Regions from separate parts of the Homo sapiens genome. Here all the other regions are linked to region 1. Evidence: fine-mapped expression QTL. A gene starts in region 1. Each other region holds a variant in brackets. All regions are shown on one strand. Distances are between the middles of the regions. Region 1 holds the start of CORO2A (coronin 2A). Region 2 holds the start of TRIM14 (tripartite motif containing 14). Region 3 overlaps TBC1D2 (TBC1 domain family member 2).

What was found.
Region 2: its variant is fine-mapped to the expression of CORO2A in whole blood (TOPMed, PIP above 0.99).
Region 3: its variant is fine-mapped to the expression of CORO2A in fibroblasts (GTEx, PIP above 0.99).

The regions. Positions count from the first base shown.
Region 1 is chr9:98,188,845-98,197,020 of GRCh38, forward strand. It overlaps CORO2A (coronin 2A), which reads right to left and starts at 3,793. Exons shown (of 12, transcript NM_052820.4): 1 at 3,715-3,793. RefSeq lists enhancers at 2,646-3,300, 6,537-7,053 and silencers at 3,453-3,502, 3,573-4,122.
Region 2 is chr9:98,117,593-98,125,768 of GRCh38, forward strand. It overlaps TRIM14 (tripartite motif containing 14), which reads right to left and starts at 1,630. Exons shown (of 6, transcript NM_014788.4): 1 at 1,390-1,630. The coding sequence starts at 1,596. CORO2A (coronin 2A) reads right to left here. Exons shown (of 12, transcript NM_052820.4): 12 at 3,383-7,313. The coding sequence ends at 7,182. RefSeq lists an enhancer at 1,104-1,153 and a silencer at 1,464-1,563. The variant A/T (reference allele first, on the strand shown) is at 3,235.
Region 3 is chr9:98,219,425-98,227,600 of GRCh38, forward strand. It overlaps TBC1D2 (TBC1 domain family member 2), which reads right to left. Exons shown (of 13, transcript NM_001267571.2): 6 at 1,409-1,804. Among named protein-coding and RNA genes, the nearest start is that of MIR6854, 5.7 kb to the right of the region's middle. RefSeq lists an enhancer at 3,246-4,445. The variant G/A (reference allele first, on the strand shown) is at 3,606.

The sequences.
Region 1 (8,176 bases):
AGGTGCTTAATAAATACTGGCTGAATGACTAATGGAATGAATGAACATAAAGCACTTAGGACAGAATTAGGCAGGCGGTAAACCCTCAATGAATGTTAGCTATTATTATTACTGTTAGTGATTCTTCAAAGTGAGGCTCCCATGTCCCTCCTCCTTGACTTCTGCAAGCTCATAATCACACCTTCCTTGTCCCCACCACACCCTGCCAATCTCTCAATTATAGTAAGGAGCACACCGCTCTTTAAATACCTGTATATCTTTTTCCATTTAGGCTGAACCAAATGAAATTGCCATTTCTTGTAAGTCAAAAAAAGTCACATACTGGCCGTTTCATGTGGTTTAACCTAGTAAGTTTCCCATAGCAGCCTGCAGACCCCCAGGAGGCACAGTTTGACCACAGAAGCAAAGTCACCTACTCCTGGCCCTTTAGACCAGGTGTGATTGCAAAGCACGTCCAATCTGTTCTGAAGGAGGCAAGGCATGGATTATAGACTTAAAACACAAGAAGATTCTGCTGAATTATTTTCTGGACCTCCTGAGATTTGGCAGAGAAGATAAAAACACACCAACTTCTAAAACGATCCAGCTTCTGGCCATTTTGAAATAGCAAAGGTTTAAGGCTGAAACCCCTCGGTGGGGAGCTAGCTACCTGCCTCTAAGGGGATTCATTTAATGAATCTCCTTCCAATCTCGGCTTTGCTACTGAGATTTGTTCACTCTAAGAGGTTGGCTGTCAGAGCTCAAACAAATTCAGCAACTGCTGAGTCTACCCCCATTTCACAGATGGAGAAAGTGAGGTCCAGAGAGGGGAACGGATCGGCCCAAGGTCACACAGTAGGGAAGAGGAAGACTTCAATCTGGAATCTATGTCTGCTGACTTTAGTCTCATGGTCTTTCTTCTGGATTAAACTGTTTCTATGCTGGCCAGACTCCGGTAATGTAAGCTTCAGTGCCACTATTTTTTAAGCTGTATTTGTCAAATGAAATGTTTATTAAGCCTCAGATAAAACTGAACACTTCTTCACTAGACGGCAACTCCTTTATTTTTTTTTTTTTTTGAGATGGAGTCTCGCTCTGTCGCCCAGGCTGGAGTGCAGTGGCACAATCTCGGCTCACTGCCACCTCTGCCTCCCGGGTTCAAGTGATTCTCCTGCCTCAGCCTCCCGAGTAGCTGGGATTACAGGCATGTGCCACCACACCCAGCTAATTTTTATATTTTTAGTACAGACAGGATTTCATCATGTTGCCCAGGCTGGTCTCAAACTCTAGACCTCAGGTGATCCGCCCACCTTGGCCTCCTAAAGTGCTAGGATTACAGGCATGAGCCACTGTGCCTGGCCAGAAGACAACTTCTTACAAATAACAGCACTACATATGTCTCTCTCCCTAGTTACTTCCTTAGGATAAAGTCCCCAAAGTAGCCGGCTAAGGGCAAAGGGCAAATATGATCATTTTCATGATAACAGGCTGCCAGGTTGCTCTGCAAAATTAAATGCCACAGGCGAATCCCTATAGCCTTGCCAGCACAGAGTTTCATCTTTTTATTTTTATTTTTGCTAATTTTACAGGAATAAATACAGACTGCTTTCATTTATTATATGTTATGTGTTTTTTTGGAGAAAAAAAGGCACTCCAATCTTGGAATCAGGATCCCTGGGCTCGGTTGCTGGTTTGCTGTGTGACCTTTGCCCAGTCACATCCCCTCTGGCGACAGGGGATGCCTATCTGTAAAATGAGGGGGTTGAATGAGACGACGTCTGAAGGCTCCTTTCAGCTCAGACATTCCATGATTCCATGGTGCATTTAAAAAGTATTAGCAATTAAAGTCATAGCATGACTTTTTAATAACCAGAATCTGCCATGCTCCTAAATCAGGCCAAAAAGGCTTGAATTAGGCAAGCAGGAAAACAGGGCCCAGATTATACATGTGTCGAGATGACAGGAGACCCAGGTAGCACTTAAGCCTGTGCGTCGGAGCTGGGCTCATGGGCCAGCACATATACTTTGCCTGCTTTTACGAGGGGATAATAACACTCATTTGTGGTCCAGCTCCCAGTCCTGTGCAGCTCCACCATGGCCGCAGGGCAAGGTCATAGGCACTACTTCAGCCCTAGAATTCCATAGACTTTCAGTCCAAGGTAGCTCACCCCCAGGTTCTGCTTGAATACCTGTGATGACAAAGAGCTCACTACCTGTCCAGGGGCCTCCTGCCCTCTTTTGGCTGTTAAGAAAATCCCTGGGTGCAGGGCAGGTCATGAAGGGGACAAGAAAGACCAGGAGGCTGAGAAGTGATTCCTAGAAACTGCTCCCTCAAACAGGGCAGGCATCAGGGAGGTGGAGAAGAGGCCCCATGGGGCAGGAAAGGCCTGCAGAGGGGCTCCGGCTCTCCTCACTCCGGACCTCTCAGACGGTCCCCAGGAGGGGCAGGAAGCTGGGGAGACACATTCCAGTCCTGATGCACAGGTGGGTTCTGAACAAGCCCCAGGAAAGCGGAGGCCCCACAGCCTGCTCCAGGGCAGACACCTCGGCTCCCTCTTCTTGCCTTGGCTCCCTGGGATCTGATGGGAGAAACTGCTGGGCCTGGGGCTGCTGGGTCTGGAGATGAGCATATTTAAGGGACCTGACCACTGCCCCAGGGTGAGGGAGGAAGGGTCAGAGGTTGTTTGTGTGTCCAGAGCAGGACCAGCAGGAGAGGCAGTGACTGGGTAGCAGATTCCAGCTTGGTTTACAACTAGTGAGATTCCTATCACAAGGAGTGTGCAAGGGGGCAGCAAGACCTTCCAGAGGGGATCTTACAGAGGGGCTGGGCCAGATGCCATAGGTCTTCTTTACCTAGGGAGCCTGGGACCACAGTCCCTCAGACCTGTGCTCTGCCCCATCCCTTAATGCCACGCGGACACAGCACCTTGGCACTGTCACCCCTCTGAGGTCCAGGCGTGGCCGCCAGTCACCCCTTGTCACACCAGCTAGTGTGTGTCACACCTTATCACACACTAGCTCTGGGACACAGAGCTAGGCACCAGCACCTGGCCCGGGTGGGGAAGGGGAAGGAGCTATCCTATACCACTCTCTAAATCGAGGTGCCTACGTGGGGCTGGTCCAGGCAGTCGTGCCGCCAGGAGTCCAGCCACCTCCAACCTAGGGCTCCTCCAGCCCCAGACGAGTAAACCCTCTTGGCGGGCCGGCTGATGCCCCACATGCACGCCCAGGCCGGCTTGGCGGGGACCCGGGGATGCCCCCCACCCCACCGTTTCCTGTACCAGGAAGCTGAGGCCCAGCAGGTAACGCAGCCAAGAGGGGGAGGGTCCCGACAAGAGTCCCATGGAGCACCCGGGCCACAGCAGGGGCCTGTCGGGACCGGCTGGCCGCGCCCAGAGTGAGCTTCCCTCACCGCGGGCAGGAGGGGTGGGCGGTGCAGACAGTGCTCATGAGGGCAGCGAGCCGTCGGGAGCCCGGACCTCGAGGCGGCCCCTCCCAACAACCCCGCGAGAAGGGGGCCACCAATGAGCAAGCTATCCTGACGGGGAAACTGAGGCCTGGAGAGGAGCAGTGCTTTGTGCAAGGTCACGCAAAGGGGCTGAAAGCCAGGTCCCCCGCGCTCCGAGCCCCGCATCCCTCCCTCTCCGGGAGCTGCAGCCGCAGCGCGCACGTCCCGCCCGACGCCCCCATCGCGCAGACCGGGAAGGCACGGCCGGCGGCGCAGGGCCGCCCTACCTTGATGACTGCCGCGCAGGTGGCGGTGGCGGCGGCGGCGTCCAGCTCCGGCTCCGCGCTCCTCGCCGCCCGCCGACTCCCGGCGCCCAGAGCCGCCGCCGCCTCCCCCTGCAGCCCGGCGGGCGGGGCCGGAGGGCGGGGCGGGGGCCTGGCCCAAGGTCCGCCCTTTTGCCCGCCCCGCGGGTCCGCCCTGGCCACCCTTTTCCGCCCCCACGACCCCGACCGCGCTCCTGGCTCCCCGGGGCGGGTCTCGGGGCGCGCACACGTGCTGGGAACAGGCGCGCACACGCCGCAGTGATTGGGGCGGGCTGCCGGCCACCAGGCGGAGGCTGGGGACAGGCAGAGCCGCGGGCCCCACGTCGCGCCGTGCCCTCGCTGCGTGGTGTGGGATGAGGAACCTGACCTCCCGGAGCCTCAGTTTCCCCCGTTGTGAAATGGAGACAGTAACCGCGTCGGCCTCTTAAGGCTGTTTGAGCCCTGGATGTGACGATCCCGGCCGGGTACAGTGCGCGCGCCGAGCCCGGCCAGGGAAGCGCTCCTTTCCCCGAGCAGTTACAGCGGTTACCGAGGCTTCCCCGTCCGCAGGGAGGAGAGGAGCCGGGAGCGCCGCTGGGAACCGAGGAGGACGCCCTTCCTTCTCTCGGGACCAGCCGGGGGCGCTGCTGCCAGCCTCGCTGGCTGGAGAGCCCTGAGGACACTAGACAATGGGGAGGCCCTACCTTTGGGTACCACCCCCACCTAACACTACTGAGCCACGCACTCCTCTAAGCGCCTTCTGTGCATTACCTCGCTTCACTGTCACACAGGCCTATGAGGTTGATACCATTACTCACCTATTTAACACAAAAGAGCTGAGGCACAGAGATATTAAGTACCTAGGTTAAGATCACCCGGCTAGTCATGCAACCCCAGGCAGTATGGCTCCCACGGCTACTAAGCTAACAGCCACTCCACTCCACACCACGTCTGTGAAGAGCTCTTGGTTTTGTTCAGTAGAGACGGGTTATCTTGAGGGCCTTGAACTGCTCCGTGGCACATAGTAACCACTCAATATATAGTTGTGGAGTGGATAACAGAGTACACTGTTACTACTTTACATATCTGTATCGTTTCTTCTAAGCTTCTAATAATAGTGGCTTTATTTAGCCACTATTATTACCTCCATTTTACAGATAAGAAAACTGAGGCTTGGAGTGGCAAGGTACTTAGGGAGCTCTTGATTCTCTCCTTAGAATGTGACTCAGCTTCCATAGTCCACTGTACCACCCCCCTGCCCAGAGCTGGACGGGCTCCCTGCCTACCACCCAAAGCCCAGTGTGCACTATGGTCCTGAAAACCCCATCCTACAGCTCTGATTCAGACCTTCTGGAGCTGGATTGCCCAGCAGGTAGACTGAACGCATGCTTCTGGTGTTAGCGTGCAAGAGTTGGGTATCAAGCATATGGATGGCTGGGCGCAGTGGCTCATGCTTGTAATCCCAGCACTTTGGGAGGCCAAGGCAGGTGGATTGCTTGAGCTCAAGAGTTCAAGACCAGCCTGGCCAACATGGTGAAAACCTGTCTCTACTAAAAATACAAAAATTAGCCGGGCGTGGTGGCATGTGCCTATAGTTCCAGCTACTTGGGAAGCTGAGGCAGGATAATCACTTGAACCTAGGAGGTGGAGGTGGCAGTGAGCCGAGATCACATCACTGCACTCCAGCCTGGGCTACAGAGTGGGACTCTGTCTCAAACAAACAAACAAACAAACAAACATATGGATGAAATCAGAACATTGTGGGAATTCTTTATAATCATGGTTTGGTTTTTACTTGAATTACAGCTGGACGGTGGGCACCATGATCTTTCCCAGGCTAAGGCATCTGAATAACTTTGTTGTTGTTGTTTTTGCATGGTTTTGTTCTGTCGCCCAGGCTGGAGTGCAGTGGCACAATCCTAGCTTGCTGCAGCCTCCACCACACAAGCTCAAGCAATCCTCCCACCTCAGCCTCCCGAATGGCTAGAACTACAGGTGCGTGCCACCATGCCCAGCCAATTTTTATATTTTTTGTAGAGATAGGGTTTCGCCACGTTGCTCAGGCTGGTCTCCAACTCCTGGGCTCAAGCAATCTGCCTGCCTTGGCCTCCCAAAGTGCTGGGATTACAGGTGCGTGCCACCACGCCTGGCCTTGAATGTCTTAATTCACTTAGGGCTTGGGCCAGCATCTCTGGTGTGGCTTTCTACCTCTGCCAATGCCACTCGCCTTGCACTCTGACATCTCTGAGCCTTTGCTCTGTCTGCAGTTCTCTTCCCAAATCATCATCTCCCTTGTCTAAACCCACTCATCCTTCCAGGCCTAGCCTTCCTAGATGTCCTATGGATGTGCCCTCCAAGGCTTGCACCTGCATCTTCCTACCCTGTGCCATGGTGGTTGGTGGCTGGGACTGTTTGGGGAACAGCTGGTTTGACAGAGACATCTCTGGGGGCTGTGGGCATATGGACCCATAAGCCAGAGGGAGACCTCTGCAATGAACCTGGGACCCTTCCTGGGGTTGCTGTGGCTGGGGAGTGTCCTCCTCTCTTGCCCCTTCCCTCCCTCTAATCCTGGTCCAGATGCAGGATTGCACACATGGGGAAACTGAGGCCACAGTGGGCATGACCTACGCAGGATCCCCTAGCTAGAAAACCACATAGCAGATCTGGTTCCAAAGTTGGGCCCATCTCCTGGCATCTTCTATTAGGCCTTAGTGTGGATTGGGATGGGCCAGGAAACCTCCCTCTTCCTTCCCAGTGCACCCACATGGCTGGCTTTGTTAATCTTCCATATGTGGGTAAACATCTTGTGCAGGACCAGAACATATGTGTGTGTGTGGTGGGGGTGGGGGGCAAGTTCTCCATCTATCTGCCCCACATGGAACTTTCTGTACGATATGGCCCCATGTCCATGGGGGAGGGGGTTGAGAAAGAATGAGGAGACAGTGCCTGGGGGTTGGGGAGGGGTCTGTGTTTGGAGGATAGTAGCCTTGAACACGGGCAATCTCTGGAAGTGAGTGAGCACCTCTTATGTTAGGGGTTGTTGGGAGGGGGGCCTTCCACCTCCTTTGACCCAGTCCCTTTATTCTTAGGGATGTTGCCCCAGGGAGGTTCCCTGGGTAATTCCCTTTTCCTCTCCTTTAGAGCAGGTCGGACCACAGCTTGCTGGGGGCCTAAGGCCTGGGGAAGGCATGCTTTGAGCATGAGGTCCTGTCCCCTAGGGTGGGAAGGTGGGGCTGAGAGGGATCGGATCCTCCAGCCCTGGAAGGCAGCAGCCCCAGGGGAAGGGGGCAACAGCTGTGGTGCGGGCCAGGAACCTGACACCAGGAGTGGGCCCCAAACACCCTCCAGAAAGAGCAGGGAAGGGCAAGCAGGCGCCCCAGGGGCAGCAACAGCAGGCACAGATGCTCTGGGGTGGGCCCACCAGTCCCTGCTCAGCCTCCTTGCCATGTGGGTATCATGCTTCTCTTGTTGTCTCTGATGAAGGGGAGAAATAGTGCTACAATCCCAGCGTGAGGCAACCATGAGGAAATTCTTCCTCTAGTTTTCCTTGGCTTAGAACTATCTTCTGAGGGTATCCCCAGGAGGCCACAGGCCAGGCATGCCCCTTCCCTAGGTCCTTGGGGAAGGTGTTCTAGGTTCCACAGGTGGGTTAAGCTGGGGGAGTCCTCCCTGGCTTTGCAGTAAGGGCTCTAGGCTTGAGCATGGCTCAACCAGTGGCTGTGTCACTTTGGATAGGTTAGCTAATGTCTCTGAGCCCTGTCTACTCGTTGGTAACCTGAGCTTGGCCTGGGTGAGTTGATGCTGCAGGACAAGCAGTTCTCAATCCCAGCTCCCTGTCAGGGCCTGAGGAGGCAGTTAGCCCTGTGTCCCGTGTCCTGTGTCCCCAACCCTTCCATGTATCAGAATGCCTGGGCTCCACCACAGGCTCCAGGCATAGGACCCTAGCACCAACATTTTTAAAAAACTACTCAGGTGATTCTTTTTTTTTTTTTTTTTTTTGTGACAGAGTTTCGCTCTTGTTGCCCAAGCTGGAATGCAATGGCACGACCTCAGCTCCACGCAACCGCCACCTCCCAGGTTCAAGTGATTCTCCTGCCTCAGCCTCCCGAGTAGCTGGGATTACAGGTGCCCACCACCATGCCTGGCTAATTTTTTGTATGTTTAGTAGAGACAGGGTTTCACCATGTTGGCCAGGCTGGTCTTGAACTCCTGGCCTCAAGTGATCCACCCGCCTTGGCCTCCCAAAGTCCTGGGATTACCAGCGTGAGCCACGGCGCCTGGCCTACTCAGGTGATTCTCAGGTGCAGCCAGGTAGGAACCAGAGGTTACATTATGCTGGGTCAAATACAAAGTACCACCCACCCCTCTCCACAGGAGGGGAGGGAAAGAGCACAGACACTCAGCTCTGAGCAGAGCTTCTCCTCTGCCTGGGGTTGGGGGGATGTGG
Region 2 (8,176 bases), 71 kb before region 1:
CTGCTTATGTCATTTTAATGTAAATTCTTGGTAAACAATTTAGGAACTGCTTCTTCTTTTTTCCTTAAAAACTTATATGTAACTGCTGCTAATCAGAGTGGATAGTCACAGAAATTTGAATCTATGGTCCCAGTTGGCCATCCTCAAGCTTTAGGCTTGGATAAACTCTGTACTTAATCATATTTTCTGAATCTTATTACTTCAAGTTGACAGTAGGTAGTGGGTAGGGGGATGGACAAATGGATGGGTGAGACTCTTGAGCCAGATCTGTGGAAAGCAGCCTTGTTAATTCTGAATAACAGTTTTTCAAGGAGCCATTATTATAATTACAGCCATTTCATACGTTAAAAAAAGGAAGGGTCTGGTGGCAGGGACAGGTCTTGAGCCCACGACTCCACTGGATTGTCCCCCATGATCCCCTTTTCACCTTGGAGTTCCAAGGTTGTCACAGTGTGGTGGTCTGGAGTCATGCAGTACCGGAGAAAGGCTCACGATGGGGCTGAATTCATCACAGAAGACTTCTTGGAGACAAGTGGTAGGATCAACAGCTGTCAGACATGAGGGCCTACCTCACCCAGGCTTCATGAAACCCAGAGAGAGAGAAGGATTTGAGAGAAGCCACAGAAAAAGTCAGCTGGGAAGCTGGAGCAGGAGCCCAGAGCCCCTGGGGCACTGTTAGGATTATGCATGGGTAAGGGTTCCACGGTGACAATGGCCCTGTTGGGGGCATCTGGCTAATGGAGTCCTGGGTTCAAGGCCTGCCCCTGCCTCCAGAGCCTTCCTCTTGTGGCCTATAAAATGGCTGTAATAATAATGGCTCACCCAGGGCTGCTATGAGCAGGAATGGGAGTGTCTGTGTGGCCGGGGAGGGGAGAGGAGGTAGGTAGTGACAGCTGAGGCTGCTCCCAGGGCAGTCAGGCCGTCCTCAGCTCAAAGTTCACAGGCCCTTTCTGTGGACTGCAGATTAAGTAAACCTGAGATGTCTGTGTGGCTTTCTGAGCTACACAGGGCTGTTTATTAAGAGGGAGAGTTTGTACCTCTGTTAACTAAAAGGCAGACTGTCTTCCAGCCCAATGGCAGTGTGGCGGATCGGCCATGGTGGACACGGTCAAGGACATCTGGGTACCAGCCTGGGCTCCCAACCTCTCACTCCTAAACCCACCTTTTCTGAAGCTCAACTGATGGCTTTGGCTCGCCTTTGCCCTTCCTTGGGTCTCAGGCTCCCGCTCTGAACTTTCGGTCGACCGCTTAGACGCCCTCTGGGGCACCTTTGGTTTCCAGGTTGTAACCCGCCACTGGCCACGGCCAGGCACGCCCCCTCCTCGGCCGTTATGCCTGGGCTGGCTCCCCCAACTCCCGCGCGGCGAACCCCGTCCCCATCGTCCCCACCTGCACGTGCACCGCTGCCTCCAGCGCCAGGCCCACAGGGTGGCCACGGTGCGCGCCCAGCACCGGGCAAAGCGCGCACACGCAGCGGCGGCAGCGGCGACAGAAGAGCTCAGCCACGCGGTCGCCATGCTCCGGGCAGCGCCAGCCGCATCCCTCGACAAGCTCCGACCTCCCAGGGGTCCGGCTCCCGGTCGCCGCGCCCGCCATTCATCTCCACCTCCTCCGGCTCCCCGGGACACAGGGCGGGGCTCCCAAGGGAAACCGAAACCTCGGCCGTGGGCGGGGCGGCTCCAGGCCGGCCGGCCGACCCCTAGGAGGATGACAGCCCGCCGGGAGCAGCGTCGGGCCTCGGAGCATCCTCCGACCAGCAGGGTGCTCCCTCTGCCCGCCCAGGCCGGGAGGTGGTCCCACCAGAAATGGGAAGCTCCTAATGAGCCAGCTAGGAGAGGGTGGGCTTCCTGCTTAATGACGCTGTTCCAGTAACGCCCAGAAAACTGCAGCCCTGATGATGGGACCAAAGTTGGCTGTGACCTTCCGGGGGTGCTCCTCTCACTTTCCCTTGATCCTCTCTTGCCCTTTTCCCCGGAAAGATAATCATTCCCACAACTGTAAGATACCTTCATCAACCTCAAATAAGGACACAGAGATTCTCCAATTGAGTTTATTTCGGACTGAGCAGAAGGATTGCAATTCGGGAATAAATGTGCCATGGCACCCAAGGGGTGGGGACGCGGAGTACTCAGGGAGGCAAAGGAAAGCAGAGGCTTTTAAAGGCAAAACGAGGAGGATTGCATATACTGTTTTTTTTGTTTGTTTGTTTGTTTTTGTTTTTTTTTTTTTTTTTTTTTTTTGGAGACGGAGTCTCGGTCTGTCGCCCAGGCTGGAGTGCAGTGGCGCCATCTCTGCTCACTGCAAGCTCCGCCTCCCGGGTTCACGCCATTCTCCTGCTTCAGCCTCCCGAGTAGCTGGAACTACAGGCGCCCGCCACCACGCCCGGCTAATTTTTTGTATTTTTAGTAGAAAAGGGGTTTCACTGTTTTAGCCAGGATGGTCTCGATCTCCTGACCCCGTGATCTGCCCGCCTCGGCCTCCCAAAGTGCTGGGATTACAGGCGTGATCCACCGCGCCCGGCCAGATCGTTTTAAAATAATAATACTTGGTTACAAGAATTAATACAGGTGGCTTCAGTCCAAAAGTTGAACAGGCAGTTGCTGGGCAGATGTCCTCATATCATGGCTTTTGTGCAAGGTTGTGGTTCTTTGTGCAAGGTTGCAGTTTGGTGGAATCTTTTGCAATAATAGTTCCTGTTACCAGGCAAATCGTTGATGAGGGCCCCCCACTTCATGGCCTCCCAGCACCATTTAGTTTGTTTGAGACAGGATCTCGCTCTGTTGCCCAGGCTGGAGTGCAATAGTGCGATCATAGCTCACTGCAGCCTCTAACTCCTGGGCTCAAGTGATCTTCCCACCTCATCTCTGGAGTAGCTGGGACTACAGGAGCACCATTTAGTTTGGTTTTGATGTAAGTGACTCTGTTTTGGTACTGACAACTTTCACACACACACCACCACCCCAAATTCCAGTTGCCCCCCCAGGCTCAAGTCTAGACTTCCACTTATAAAGCCCTCAGCTCTTTCTTAAGATCCTTGGTCTCCGCCCTGCCTATGCTCCACCCTGTGCTTTTTCAAGACTGGGGGACGTGCAGTTTACCCTGCTTGGAACATTCTTCTTCCCAAATGCCCTTTGCCCTGAGTATTCCAACTTACTCTGCAGGTTTCTACCTTACTATCTTTTCCTCCAGGAAGCCTTCCCTCCTTCTCCTTCCAGAACAGCCTATGCTTTCCCT[A/T]TCCTGGCCCTCCCCATTCCCGCAGCCATGACTGAAAACTGGAGAGGGCAAAGACTGTCTGTTCTGCCTGTTTTCCAGCTTGGTGTCTGACTCCAAGAGTAGATAGTTAATTGGTATTTGTGGAACAAATCAAGAAAAGGAAAGCTCCTTGTAGTAAAATGGCCAGATGTTTATTATTTTGTTACATTATTTCCATTGCATATTCCACATCTATTTATTTTCACTTTTATTTATTATCATTATTTTTCACAAAGGTACAAGGAATTTCAGAAACAACATTAAAACAATCATTCAAACTGTTTCAGGCACGGTTTCAATTAAAAGCATAGATTTGATTTCTGACTTCCTGTTTCCTTCTATGATACAATCTCAAGTTTTGTTTCAGGAAGCACAATTATTGTAGCGTTAAGGTGGATACCTGCCAAAGCTCATCTCCTAGTGCTGTCCTCATTCTCAGAAAGTTCCTGAGTCAACAGAAAGGGGACGCCCAGGGTATGGAATAAGGAGATGAGAGCATGCTCTGCCAACTGGCTGGGACCTGAATGTGCTAGGCAAGTTCCACTACATCAGCTCAAGAACATAAACAAAAATGTAATTTAAAAAACAGATGGTTTAAAAAAATATCTGATAAAAATTACCTATCCCTCTCCCTTGCTGTGAAATAATTTAAATAATTTATTCTAGATGTAAAAATAATAATACAAAAAAGTTTGTTCAAAGACACCTGTGTCCTGTTTGTTAAGTGTGCAGTCTGGGTCCCTTGGGGTGGAGGGAGCTGGCCAAGGAATGGCATTGTGCAGAGGCATACCGGGAAGCTCTCTGGATGCAACCCCACCTCTACCGCTTGGCAGTCAATGACCTTGGCATGATGTTTCTTCACTTCTCTGAGGCTAGGTCTTTGATTCTGAACATGGGGACTGTAATGCCTGCCTGACCTGTGTTAGAACAGCATGTGTCACTGAGTGGAGGTGGGAGGAATTTGTAAACTGTGAAGTGCTAGCCACACAGGTGGGAAAGGTAAGCCTATCCTGTAGAGCTCTGCTGCCCTGACAATGCCTGGGATTTGGCCTTCTTTTCTGGAGCACACTAAGGCAATCTTGGCTAGTGCATCAGACGGGAGTGAGCCCCAGTGACTGAGTAAATGGAGAATAAGACAAGGAACACGAGCATCCGGCCTGTGCAGACATACAAGCAGAATAAACCACAGCTGGGTAAGGGGCAAACAGGGGCACTGAACCCCCATCGTGCTGCAGCTGCGGTTCCCAGAGATGTTGAGGGAGGGCTTGGGGCAACACTTCTGGACTTTTAAGGAGCCACCAGGCAGGACTTAAGAGATCTGGGTTGAGTCCCAGCTCCTGTCTGGAGCTTGCTGTCCTCTTCATCTTTATTGCAAATAGGTACACATGCAGTCTTCCATCTTCACTGTACTGCAGATCACCTGTGGAGCTTATATGACCATACAGGCCCTACTCTGGAGATTCAGCTTCAGTTGGTCTGGAATGTGGCATGGGCATCTGTATTTCCTGCACGCTCCCAAGGGAATTCTAATGTACACAGCTTGGGTTGAAACCTACCAGACTAGGTGGCCTCCTGCAGTCCCCACCTCAGCTCCAGAATCTAATCGCCCTGTGCAATGGAGATCATCTGCCCCTCCTTGGTAAGGAGGGACCAATTTCACTTCTAATCATTCCCAGTCTCTTGGTGGACTATTGTATTGACCACTGAACTTTAGAGTAGGGCTCGGAACACAGATTCACTAAGGAGGGACAAAGAAAAGCTTTCAGGCTAAAAGGGAACTTTGGGACCATCTGGTACTACTTCTTTACCTCGTATAGTCATTTCAGAAGACCTCCTGGTTAGGTGGCCAGAGGCTCTGCTGGCATGTCTCCAGTGATGGGGGCCCCCTACCTCCTGGGGGACTCTTCTGTTAACTAGGGCTGAAATCTGCCCACATCATCCTGCAGGAGGCAGGCTGTGTACCTGAGGGCCTTGGTGGTGGCAGTCAGCAGTCATGGGCACAGTTCTGAAGTCTGCGTCCCTCCATAAGGGACAGCATCTATCCATATCAGGCTGATTCTGGTTGGAAAGGTTGGTTTTGACCACCTGCCTGTGTTGTAGAATTGGGTTGAATGCCTCTGACCCCTTGCCAGTGTCCGTTAGTTTCTGTAGCAAACCCAGATCACCCCACAGGTAGTTTTCTCTTAGGTCAAGGTTTCAGGTGGCAGATCCTGCAGAGAGCAGCTTGTTCCAGGGTACCCCTGGTTCAGATGAAGAAACTGAGACCAGAGAGGGCAGGACTTGCAAGAGGTCACTGAGTAAGCTGGGGCACAGCTGAGGCCAGAAGCAACAGATTTCTACTCTTTGGGCTGAGAACTGCATCAGACCCAAAAGAGCAAAAAGACAGACCCAGAAAAGCAGGATCTCAGCCCAGCCCTGCCATGAAACAAATATCACTTGCCTCTCTCTAGGCCTTAGTTTCCCCAGCTGTAAAATGAGGAACTTGGGTCAAATCACTAGCTTTCAAACTTCTAAAAAAATTTTTTTTTCCTAGCAGAATTGTTTTTCATACTAGCCCAACATATAAAATAGAAGGGAGCTGTCTGGTTGGAATACAGTGTGGGGAAGGGAGACACAGCCTTCCTGCTTAGTCTTCCCCTATTCTCTCTCTCTTTTTTTTTTTTTTTTTGGAGATGGAGTCTCGCTCTGTCACCCAGGCTGCAGTGCAGTCCGCAATCGTGGCTCATAGCAACCTCCACCTCCCAGGTTCAAGCAATTCTCCTATCTCAGCCTCCCGAATAGCAGGGACTACAGACGCTCACCACCACGGCTGGCCAACTTTTTTTTTTTGAGACGGAGTCTCACTCTGTCACCCAGGCTGGAGTGAAGTGGCATGATCTTGGTTCACTGCAACCTCCGCCTCCCAGGCTCAAGCGATTCTCCTGCCTCAGCCTCCCAAATAGCTGGGATTACAGGCATGCACCACCATGCCTGGTTAATTTTTTATTTTTAGTGGAGACGGGGTTTCACCATGTTGGCCAGGCTGGTCTTGAACTCCTGACCTCAGAAGATCCGCCCAGCTTGGCCTCCCAAAGTTCTGGGATTATAGGCGTGAACCACCACGCCCTGCCTAATTTTTGTATTTTTAGTAGAGACGGGGTTTCACCATGTTGGCCAGGCTGGTTTCTTTCTTTTTTTTTTTTTTTTGAGACAGACTTTTGCTCTTATTGCCCAGGTTAGAGTGCAGTGGCACAATCTCAGCTCACTGCAACCCCCGCCTTCCGGTTTCAAGCAATTCTCCTGCCTCAGCCTCCCAAGTCGCTGGAATTACAGGCGCCTGCCACCACGCCCAGCTAATTTTTTTGTATTTTTAGTAGAGATGGGGTTTCACCATGTTGGTCAGGCTGGTCTCGAACTGCTGACCTCGTGATCCACCAGCCTCGGCCTCCCAACATGCTGGAATTACAGGCGTGAGCCACTGCGCCTGGTGAGACTGGTTTCAAACTCCCGACCTCAAGCAATCCGCCCACCTCAGCCTCCCAGAGTGCTGGGATTACAGGCATGAGCCACTGCGTCTGGCCCAGTCTTCCCCTATTCTCTGGACCACAGTTTGAAAATCACAGACAGGTCAACCTAGATCCTTCCAGCTCTAGTTTTCTACTGTGTTCTTTCCTCTTGAGAAGTTACAGCTCATCATGGGCCCTTAATAACAGAATTCAACAGAAGGCATCATCTGAAAACAAAGTCAATTCAGAAACTGTTGTTGCAAGAAGGCAAACAGAAAAACGGCACCATGTCCCACTGGAATCTCTTTCAGCGATGGAGAGTTTTGTTTTCTGGTAAAAAATATAGAAATAGTGGTTGTCCTTGAGGGGACTTGTGGTTTGGTTCTAAACCTCCCCATGGAGCCGAGTGGTGTCCCTGAGGGTGAGGAGGGCAGAGGTCTCTGCTCAGAGCTGCTCTGAGCCCATCCGCAAGTTTTTGATCTCCAGTTCCAACTGTTTGGCCTGGACCTCTCGCTGGGTCAACAGCTCCCGGAGCCTTCGGATCTCCTCCTGTTGCCGGTAGAACATCTGCAGCAACTGGGGAAGAAAGATCGGAAGGCAGGATCACCATGGTGTCAGGACACCAGCTGAAAGCTAAACCACTATCCCTCTTTGACTCAGAAAGGTGGAGGCGGTCACATTAACATGGCTGAGGCCTGATGGGGCTGTCACTGCATAGATCTTTTACAAACACCTTGTTTACTTCACCCAATAAATGAAATTCAAGAAGACTGGAATGTTTCAGATGTATTTTGCTTCCATAGATCCTCCATGAAATAGAGGAAAGGATGCCTGGCTCTGAAGTCTGGGGATTGGTGTTTTCGCCACCACTGAACTGTGTGACCTTGGGCAAGTTACTTACCCACTCTGAGCTTCCATTCCTTCCTCTGGAAAATGGGGTCAGAAAACTGCCCTCTGTGCAGAATGGGTGTTAGATATTGAGTGATGCCCTAAGGGCCTCGTTATCCCACTGGAACGTTGTGACACCCCTATAAGGGTGGCAGTGCTAGTGTCCCCACCGTACCACCGTGGAAACGGAAGCTTAGAGACATTCAGTCTCTGGGTCTAAGACCCTAAATTAGTACTCAGCAGAGCCAGGATCAGAATCCATCTGTGAGATGCCAGCCTCTGTGTTCTTAGCCACTACAGACTGACTTCCAGGGCTGTTGAGAGAATTCAATCACGTGCTGTATCAAAGTGCCTACCCCAGGATCTGCCACACAGTAGGCACTAAACAAATGTGGACTTTGAAAGCACAGAAAGTCCTATAATGTCAGAACTGGAAAGACTTTGATACCCACTAGGTCAAACCCTCTCCATTTTACAGATGGTTTCCCACCATTTTTTTTTTTTTTTTTTTTTTTTTTGAGACAGAGTCTCACTCTGTTGCCCAGGCTGGA
Region 3 (8,176 bases), 31 kb after region 1:
GAGAGTTCTCAAGGTTATAAGTCTATATGTACAGTCTCGTGTGGCTTAATTATGAGGATACACTCTGAGAAATGCGTCATTAGGTGATTTCACTGTTGTGCAAACATTGTAGACTGGACGCAGACAAACCTAGGTGATTTAGCCTACTACGCACCCAGCTAGATGGTGTAGCCTATTGCTCCGAGGCTGCAGACCTGTGCACCTGTTACGGTACTGAATACCATAGGTGGCTGTCACATAATGGCATTTGTGTATCTAAACACATGTAAACATAGAAAAGGTAGCATGTTGTGCTATGATGTTATGACGGCTATGATGTCACTATGTGACAGGGATTTTTCTGCTTCATTGTAATCTTATGGGACCATCACATATGCAGCCTGTTATATGGCATCTGACTGTACATATGTGGTTGTGAGTGGCAGGGTTTGGGGCAGGACGAACTCTGGTTGTATGGCTCCCTTTACGGACAGTGGAGGCTATGAGTGCACTCCACAGCCACAGGCCTCCCAGTGGGACAGTTCCTGTCACAACCCTTTAGAGAGGAGGCTGCGGGTCACGGCAGGCAACACACTTCACATAAAGTTCCTACCTCCTGTGACATCACTGGTCCCTGTGGGGTGGGGAAGCCTAGGGAAAGATAGGGACAGAGAAGGGGAAGGAAGGGGAGGAAAGGAGGAGCAGGGATGGTGGCAGCAGCTAGAAGCGGCAGCTGAGCAGACAGACCAGACCGCAGACATGAGCTCCAGCCCAGCTCCAGCTCCTCCACTTCTTCAGCACATGACCCTGGGCAGGCTCCTTAACCTTTCTCAGCCTCAGCATTCCACATCTGTAAAGGGGGAGCACACCAGCGGCTGCCTCACCTCACAGGGCTGGCGCGAGGACTAAATGTGGCGATGCACCCACCGAGGGCAGTGCCTGGCACACAGGAAACACCCTATAAATTCTACAGATGGGAGCAGTGACTATTGGCAGCTGCAGGTCATCCGTACAGTGTGCAGGCGCAGGACTGTGGGGGGAGGGTCGTGCTGGCCCCTTAGGGCTCTCGGGTGCACTGGGATGGCACTAAGGGAGGTTGACCAGGCCAGGCCCCACACTTAGCTAGTCAGGCTTTCATCTCTCATTTGATAATCTAGAGGCACCTTCACTTTTCAGTAGCCCAGGATACCAGGGCTACTGGTTAATGGGTCAATCAAGGCCCAGGCAAACTGCACTGGGCCTTGTGGTAAAGAAAGTGAAGAAGCGTAGAGCAATATTCCCATCAACATGTGTTTCTAATGTGAATATTCTAGGATGAAGGGGTATCCCCACTCCACCTAGCAAACCCTTAGGGGTGGAGAGCGCACCTTCCCTGAGGGCTGGGACAGAGGACCGGCAGGACTGGCAGGCCCTGAGGGGAGGCCCCTACCTTCAGGTGCTCTATCTTCCCCTGCTGGCTCAGGAAGTCCCTGTTGGCAGCGTCGGGGCGCAAAGGAGACTGGTCAGGGGGGTGCGTGAAGTCCTGGGTGACCTTCTCAGAGAGCTTGCAGATGACCTGCTGCTTGGCGTGGTTCTTGTCCATAAGCAGCTGCACGTGCTGCTGTAGCTCCTGCACCTGCTGCTCCCGCAGGCTCGCTGTGTGCGCCAGGCTCTCCCGCTCCTGCTCCAGGGCCTCCACCCGCCGGCCCAGCTCCGCGATCTGCCGCACTTTGTGCCGCACCAGCTCCAGCCGGTCCTTGTCCTCAGCCGCCGCCAGGTATGCGCTGGACGCCCGCTTCTCCTGCTGGGCGGCCTCCAGTGCCTTGTGCAGGATCTTCACTAGCTCCTGGGCAGGGAGAGGGAAGAATCTTGTGAGCTCAGGGAGGGCCTGCTGGGCGCCACAGTGGGGTATATGTTATCAGTAGTTCTCCTAACAACCGTGAGAGGTGCCCAGCAGCATCCCTGCGGCATCTCATCCTGACACTCACTTTCTCCTTCTCTGTTCAAGTGACTGTTAGCTGGGCACATGGTTCCCCAGCTTAAAACTGCATCTCCCAGCCAAGCCATGGTGAGGTGTAGCCAAGTAACTATTCTGCCTAAATGGGAAATGAAAAGTGAGATGGGCAGCTTCTGGGTCCTACCTTTAAAACCACTAGATACACGCTCCTCTGGTCCAGTTCTCTTTGCTTCTGGCTGGGAAGTGGCAGGAACTAGAGTGGCCGCCTCAGACCCACAGCAGAAGGTACATGTTGAGAAAGGGCTGCCCCCCAGCTCAGAGTTGCTCACCTACCTCTGGGTTCTTTAATGTGAATGAGAAACCTCTCACTCGTTTTGGGCCACAGTGCTTTGAAACTTTTTTTTTTTGAGATAGCGTCTCCCTCTGTTACCCAGCCTGGAGTGCAGTGGCACAGACATGGCTCACTGTAGCCTCAATCTCCTGGGCTCAGCTGATCCTCCCACCTTAGCCTCTCAAGTAGCTGGGACCACAGGAACATGCCAACACACCAGGCTAATATTTGTATTTTTTTGTAGAGAAGGGGTTTTGCCATGTTGCCGGGCTGGTCTCAAACTCCTGGACTCAAATGATCTGCCCACCTTGGCCTTCCAAAGTGCTGGGATTACAGGTATGAGTCACCACACCCAGTGGAGATGTTTTTGTCACAGCAGCTGAACCCATACCCTGACATATACACATCCATTTCAGGGATGAACAAACTGAGGCCCAGCAGAGAGTAGAATGGAATTCAATCTCAATTGGCTAGATTCCAAAGCCTGTGCTCAGTAACTAAGAAAACCAGGGGTGGCAGCTATGTGGCATTACTCTTCCCTCTCATCCCTGTGGCAGACATCACTAATTAATCTCCCATACTTCTTCCTGCACAGCCTACCCTAGTTGAGGCCTCAGAATCATTCTCAATATAGCAGCCAGTCACTACCAATCAAGTTGAGTCAGGGTTAAAGAGGAAATACACTGGCAATCCCCATGTAAAGCCACACACAGAGGACCTCATTCAAGCCATTTGTGCCTAGTTACCTTCAGCCCACCAGCCGATGCCTGCAAAGCTGGTGGAAGGAACTCTAGAAAGTTCAGAAACAATAGAGCTTGATTTATTCCTCAGCAGGGGCAACTAATTCACACAGGAACTCAAGGTCTGCTCAGCTCCCTGTGCCTTTAAGCCTGTAATTTCCCCAGGGAGGGCCACGCCTGGACTCAGGCCTATCTGTCCCAAAGCAGGGATGTGAATTTGTTCTGGGCCAGGATCAGGACATCAGCAGCCAGGTCCACGTGGAACTAATACCAGGTAGGTATGACTTTCAGGCAACACTGCCCTGCTCTGTGCTTCTCATTTGGAAAAACATGGTTTCCTAGAGACATGTCAACTATACCACACCAAAGTATTAAAATGAGTGGATTGGCTGGATAGCCTTATTTGCTAAGAACAATTCTATATTGGAGGAAAACTGCCAAAAACCATGACTTTTTTGGAGAAGCTAATGACAAGACCACATTAGCCTGCATCTTCTGAAACCTTAGGACTAGTGACCATCCTTTCTCTGGTTCTCTCTTTTCCTTCCACATGCCCATCCATCCATCCAACCTTTACCAAGCACCACTCGGTGCCAGGCCAGGCCCTGAGCCAGGTGCC[G/A]TGGCCCAGAGAGGGAGTGGTGAGAGTTCCCACCTCCAAGGACTGCAAAGGCTGGTGGGAATGAACATGACCCACCACAGTGGAATGATCTACTGCAAGTCAGGGGAACAAGGGTGTTTGTGGGAAAGGCAATGACTTCTGTCTGGGGTGGAGGTTGTGGGGAATACCAGTCCAGAGCATTTAAAAGAAACTGTGAAGAATGAGAAGGGCCAGAGATGGTCGAGCAGCAGGTGGGAGATGAGGGTGGGGATGGCCCTCCAGATGTGGCCAAGCTACAGCCCCAGTAAAGACCTGGAGGAAGGAAAGAGCTACCATGGAGCTGTGGGAGCCCTGGGGTGTGGCAGGAAGTTGGGGTGAGGACAGCACAGTGATTGCAAACCAAAAGGGAATGTTTGGAACGTCCAGAATGAAGAAGTCAGCTTCTCAGGGCTCAGTGGAGAGAGATTAACATTCCTGTGGTTCCAGGAAAACTGGGGGCCTAGGCCATTTTCTGCTTCAGCTGAGATTTGGAGGTTACCTTGGATGACTGCCCAGGGAAATAACCAACAGACATCATTGTTCAGACTTGCCCTAGGAGCAGGACCAGTGGGTGTCTTTCCCTCAATTTGGGGAGTTAGTTGACTCTGAAGCTTATTTCATTACATCTAGCTGTCTCCTTCCCGCATTTGGCTCCCAGAATCTAAGACTGAGACACCAGCCCAGGAGGCTCTCCTCCCACCCCCAGAATTCTTGTACCAGAATAAAATAGGCTTAAAAGAACGGAACCAGGGCAGAGGGAGGGAGCCTCAGTAGGACTTGTAAGATGAGGAGTGAGAATGTCATGAATTCAAGAAACCTAAAGTCTGGATTATAAGCAATGTCTTAGGACCAATTCTTAAAAATAGGTTGGGCCGGGCGTGGTGGCTCACGCCTGTAATCCCAGCACTTTGGGAGGCCAAGGCGGTCGGATCACGAGGTCAGGAGATCGAGACCATCCTGGCTAACATGGTGAAACCCCGTCTCTACTAAAAATACAAAAAAATTAGCCAGGCGTGGTGGCGGGTGCCTGTAGTCCCAGCTACTCAGGAGGCTGAGGCAGAATGGTGTGAACCCGGGAGGCGGAGCTGGCAGTGAGCTGAGATCGCACCACTGCACTCTAGCCTGGGCGACAGAGCGAGACTCCATCTCAAAAAAAAAAAAAAGAAAAGAAAAGAAAAGAAAAATAGAGGGGTTGATGAAATTAAGCTTTTTGAAGTGTTTTTTTTTCTTTTCTTTTTTTTTTTTTTTTTTTTGAGACAGGGTCTCACTCTGTTGCCCAGGCTGGAGTGCAGTGGCGCAATCACGGCCCACCGCAGCCTCAACCTCCTGGGCTCAAGAGATTCTCTTGCCTCAGTCTCCCTTGTAGCTGGGACTACAGGCATGCACCACATTGCCCAGCTAATTATTTTATTTTCTGTAGAGACAGGGTCTCCCTATGTTGTTCGGGGTGGTCTTGAACTCTTGGGCTCAAGAGATCCTCCCACCTTGGCCTCCCAAAGTGTTGGGGTTATAGGTGTGAGCCACCATGCCCGGCCCAAGTGGTACTTTTAATATTTCTCAATCGAGTTGTTTGGTTCATCTCAGATTTTGATACGTGGTCATAAGTTGTCACTTTATTTAAATTTTTAAAAGCCAATAAATCATCTTTAAAAAATAATCCTTTATCTTTTTAGAGCATTGCTACTTTCATCAGTGGTGGGCCCTACAGGGGTCAGATGAAGGGGCATGGGCTTTGGAGTTGCACAGGCCTCGGTTCCCATTCTGGATCCGTGGGGGGTGTATCTAACGAGGTGACTCTAAGGAGGGTAGCTCAGGTGGCCTCTTCATTGAACCTCAGCTTTCTCATGAATGGGGCTAAAGCTTCCTCTTCTGCTCAGAACTGCCTCTAGCATGAAAGAGAAAGTGCCAAGTGTCCCTCCCCAAGCTGACATGGCCAAGGTACCTCCCAGCCCTCTTTCATGTCCTCTGAAGTTTTTGGCTGGAGTTCTAGGAAAGTAAGAGGCTATACGTTGCCCCACTGAGTTTCCTAAAAAATTACGTTCCTTTACCCAGTAATCCTGATTGAACTAAGGTGGCCCCAGAGGGCCGCAGGCAGGGTCCCAGAGGGGTTCATCATTCCCAGCCGCCAACAGATGGCCAACATCACCACAGACAACAGCCTTCCATCTGCCAGAGCAGACGGCCTTCAGGCTGGGTGGAGTTCTGTCAACTCCAAGGGTCAGTCCCCGGCCAATCAGCCATCTGGTGCTATCTCCTAGAGCCCAAACCTCTTGTGGGGCCAGTGCTGCAGGTATGGGGACAGATAATGGCTTAATGGGTATTGAAGTCAACCTGTGGTTTAATATGACACCAGGGGGTACACAGGGAGTGCATTCATTTTTTCTCAAGAGCAGTTTTGGTGCTTGTGTCTCATAGTGGGCCTCACCATGAGACTATGGAAGAGAGGAGGCAGCCCAGCCTCTAGACTTGGAGAAGGAGGTTAGGGCCCCAATCCTGGCTTTTCCAGCTGCCTGCGCATGGGCAAGTCACCCAACTCCTCTGAGCTCCTCAAATGCTGGCTTAGCCCCTGGGAGACCCTGAGCATGCAGACACTCTGAGAACCTCAGTTTCCCTTTCAGAGTAAGGGGATGAAAACTATTGTAAGGACAGAGATAACACATGGGAAGGCTCAGCACAGTCCTGGGGCCGCGCTTCATACCAGCAGTTCCCATGCTCACATCTTCTCTTCCCCACTAGATGGTGAGGTGCCCAAGGGCAGGGATTTGTCTGCAATGTGCTCTCAAGAGCATCTCGCAGTGTTTGAGATAGAAATTCCTAAAGAGTCACGAAAGCCACTGGCAATGGCCAGATCAGCTAGGATAAGACCCCAAATTCCCATGTCCTCCTGAAGTTTGAGGTAGACAGGAGGTGCCTTCCCACTAAAGAAACACAGGAAGGTACCTCGCAGGGGTAGCTCCTGGGATTCCAGGTGCCCATCTTCCCAGCTGATGAATGGGACTCTAATGAGGGTCTCAGATGGACAGCGGCTCTCCTAGCGGCATTCTGAGTGCCTGGGGGCACCACTGGGCACCCAGAAGTTGTGCTGGCTTTTTCTGTCTCACCTCTTTGGTTTCAGTATCTGGGCTACAGGTGAAACCCTAGAGTTACGGGGCTGCCATTCCTCCCTTCCTAATGTGGAATGAAGACCTAAGCTCCCTGATCACTGCTATGGCCCCACGGCACATTTCCTGAAGGCACTGATGGGCTCTCACTTCCCGCCTCGTCTCTGAGCCCCTCAGCAGGGCACCTCACTGCTTGTAGGGCAGGAAGAGATTGACATGGAGGGTAAGGAGGGCTGCAGTAATCGCCAGAACAACCAGAGCCTGCATCTGTTGGGCAGCTGCTGGGTGCCAGGTACTGGGCTTTATGAATCTGGGCACAGGTCTCTCCAGTAAACACGGCTGCAACTCCATTTACAGAAGAGGAAACTGAGGCTTAGATAGGTTAAGAAACTTGCTTAGGGCCAGAATTTGAGCCTGTGCTGTCTTATTTAAAGGCTGGTTCTTTGAATCACCCTGAAGACTGAAGTTCATTTGTGGAATGGGTTGGAGAGTAAACAAATCCACTCCTATTGCACAATAATTGGATAAACTAAATAAATCACAACTCATTCTCCTTTTGACCCTCTGTCCCAGGACACAAAGTCGAGGTTTGGTGGAAGGTTACCTGGTAGAAAAAAAATCCAGATTCTTCAATGCATCAACAACTTCCTCCTGACAATTTCCCTCTGAATATATGGGAGTTGTCAATAGCCTGGTCAACCCTTATTAATCTCCAAGAATCTTGCCTTTATTTATTGAAGAATGATGAGTCCTCCAGAGATGCAGAGCAATCAGGGGCAAACTTTCATGAAATCTAGGTTTCCTGGGGCCTTTCTACTTCATCTGACAATTTGTAATGTCTTAGAAAGAAAGGCTGTGTCAAGAGAGGCTGCCCGTATATTCAGGATTTCTTTTTCTTTCCAGGTTTGGGTTTCGGATTTAAGCTCTACTAGTCCAGGGATCAAGTAGCTGCTATGGCTCTGTTTCATGCCCTCTCAGCTCTCAGGAGCGTCCAGCAGCCTCAGAACTGGAGCACCATGATGACAGGAGGAAAAGACAGCTGGGCTGCTAAGCAGCAGCAGAGGGGACCTCACGTGTTATAACTACACATTTGGGTGTTGCTTTGTTTAATGTCTGTCTCTGCCATGAAATGCAAGCTGTAAGGGCAGAGCCTGTGTCTTTTGCTCATTGTTCTTTCCCAGCACCTGGAACACTGCATGCACATAACAGGCCCTTAATAAAAATTTGGTGAATAAACACATGAGTTAAGAACGTATGAATAAATGAGCCCCCTCCTTTGAGAACTCTAATGTCTAATCACCAGTTGCTTCACTAAATGTAACTCCTGGCCAGGCACGGTGGCTCACGCCTGTAATCCCAGCACTTTGGGAGGCTGAGGTGGGCAGATCACTTGAGGTCAGGAGTTCGAAACCAGCCTTGCCAACATGGTGAAACCTAGTCTCTAATAAAAAT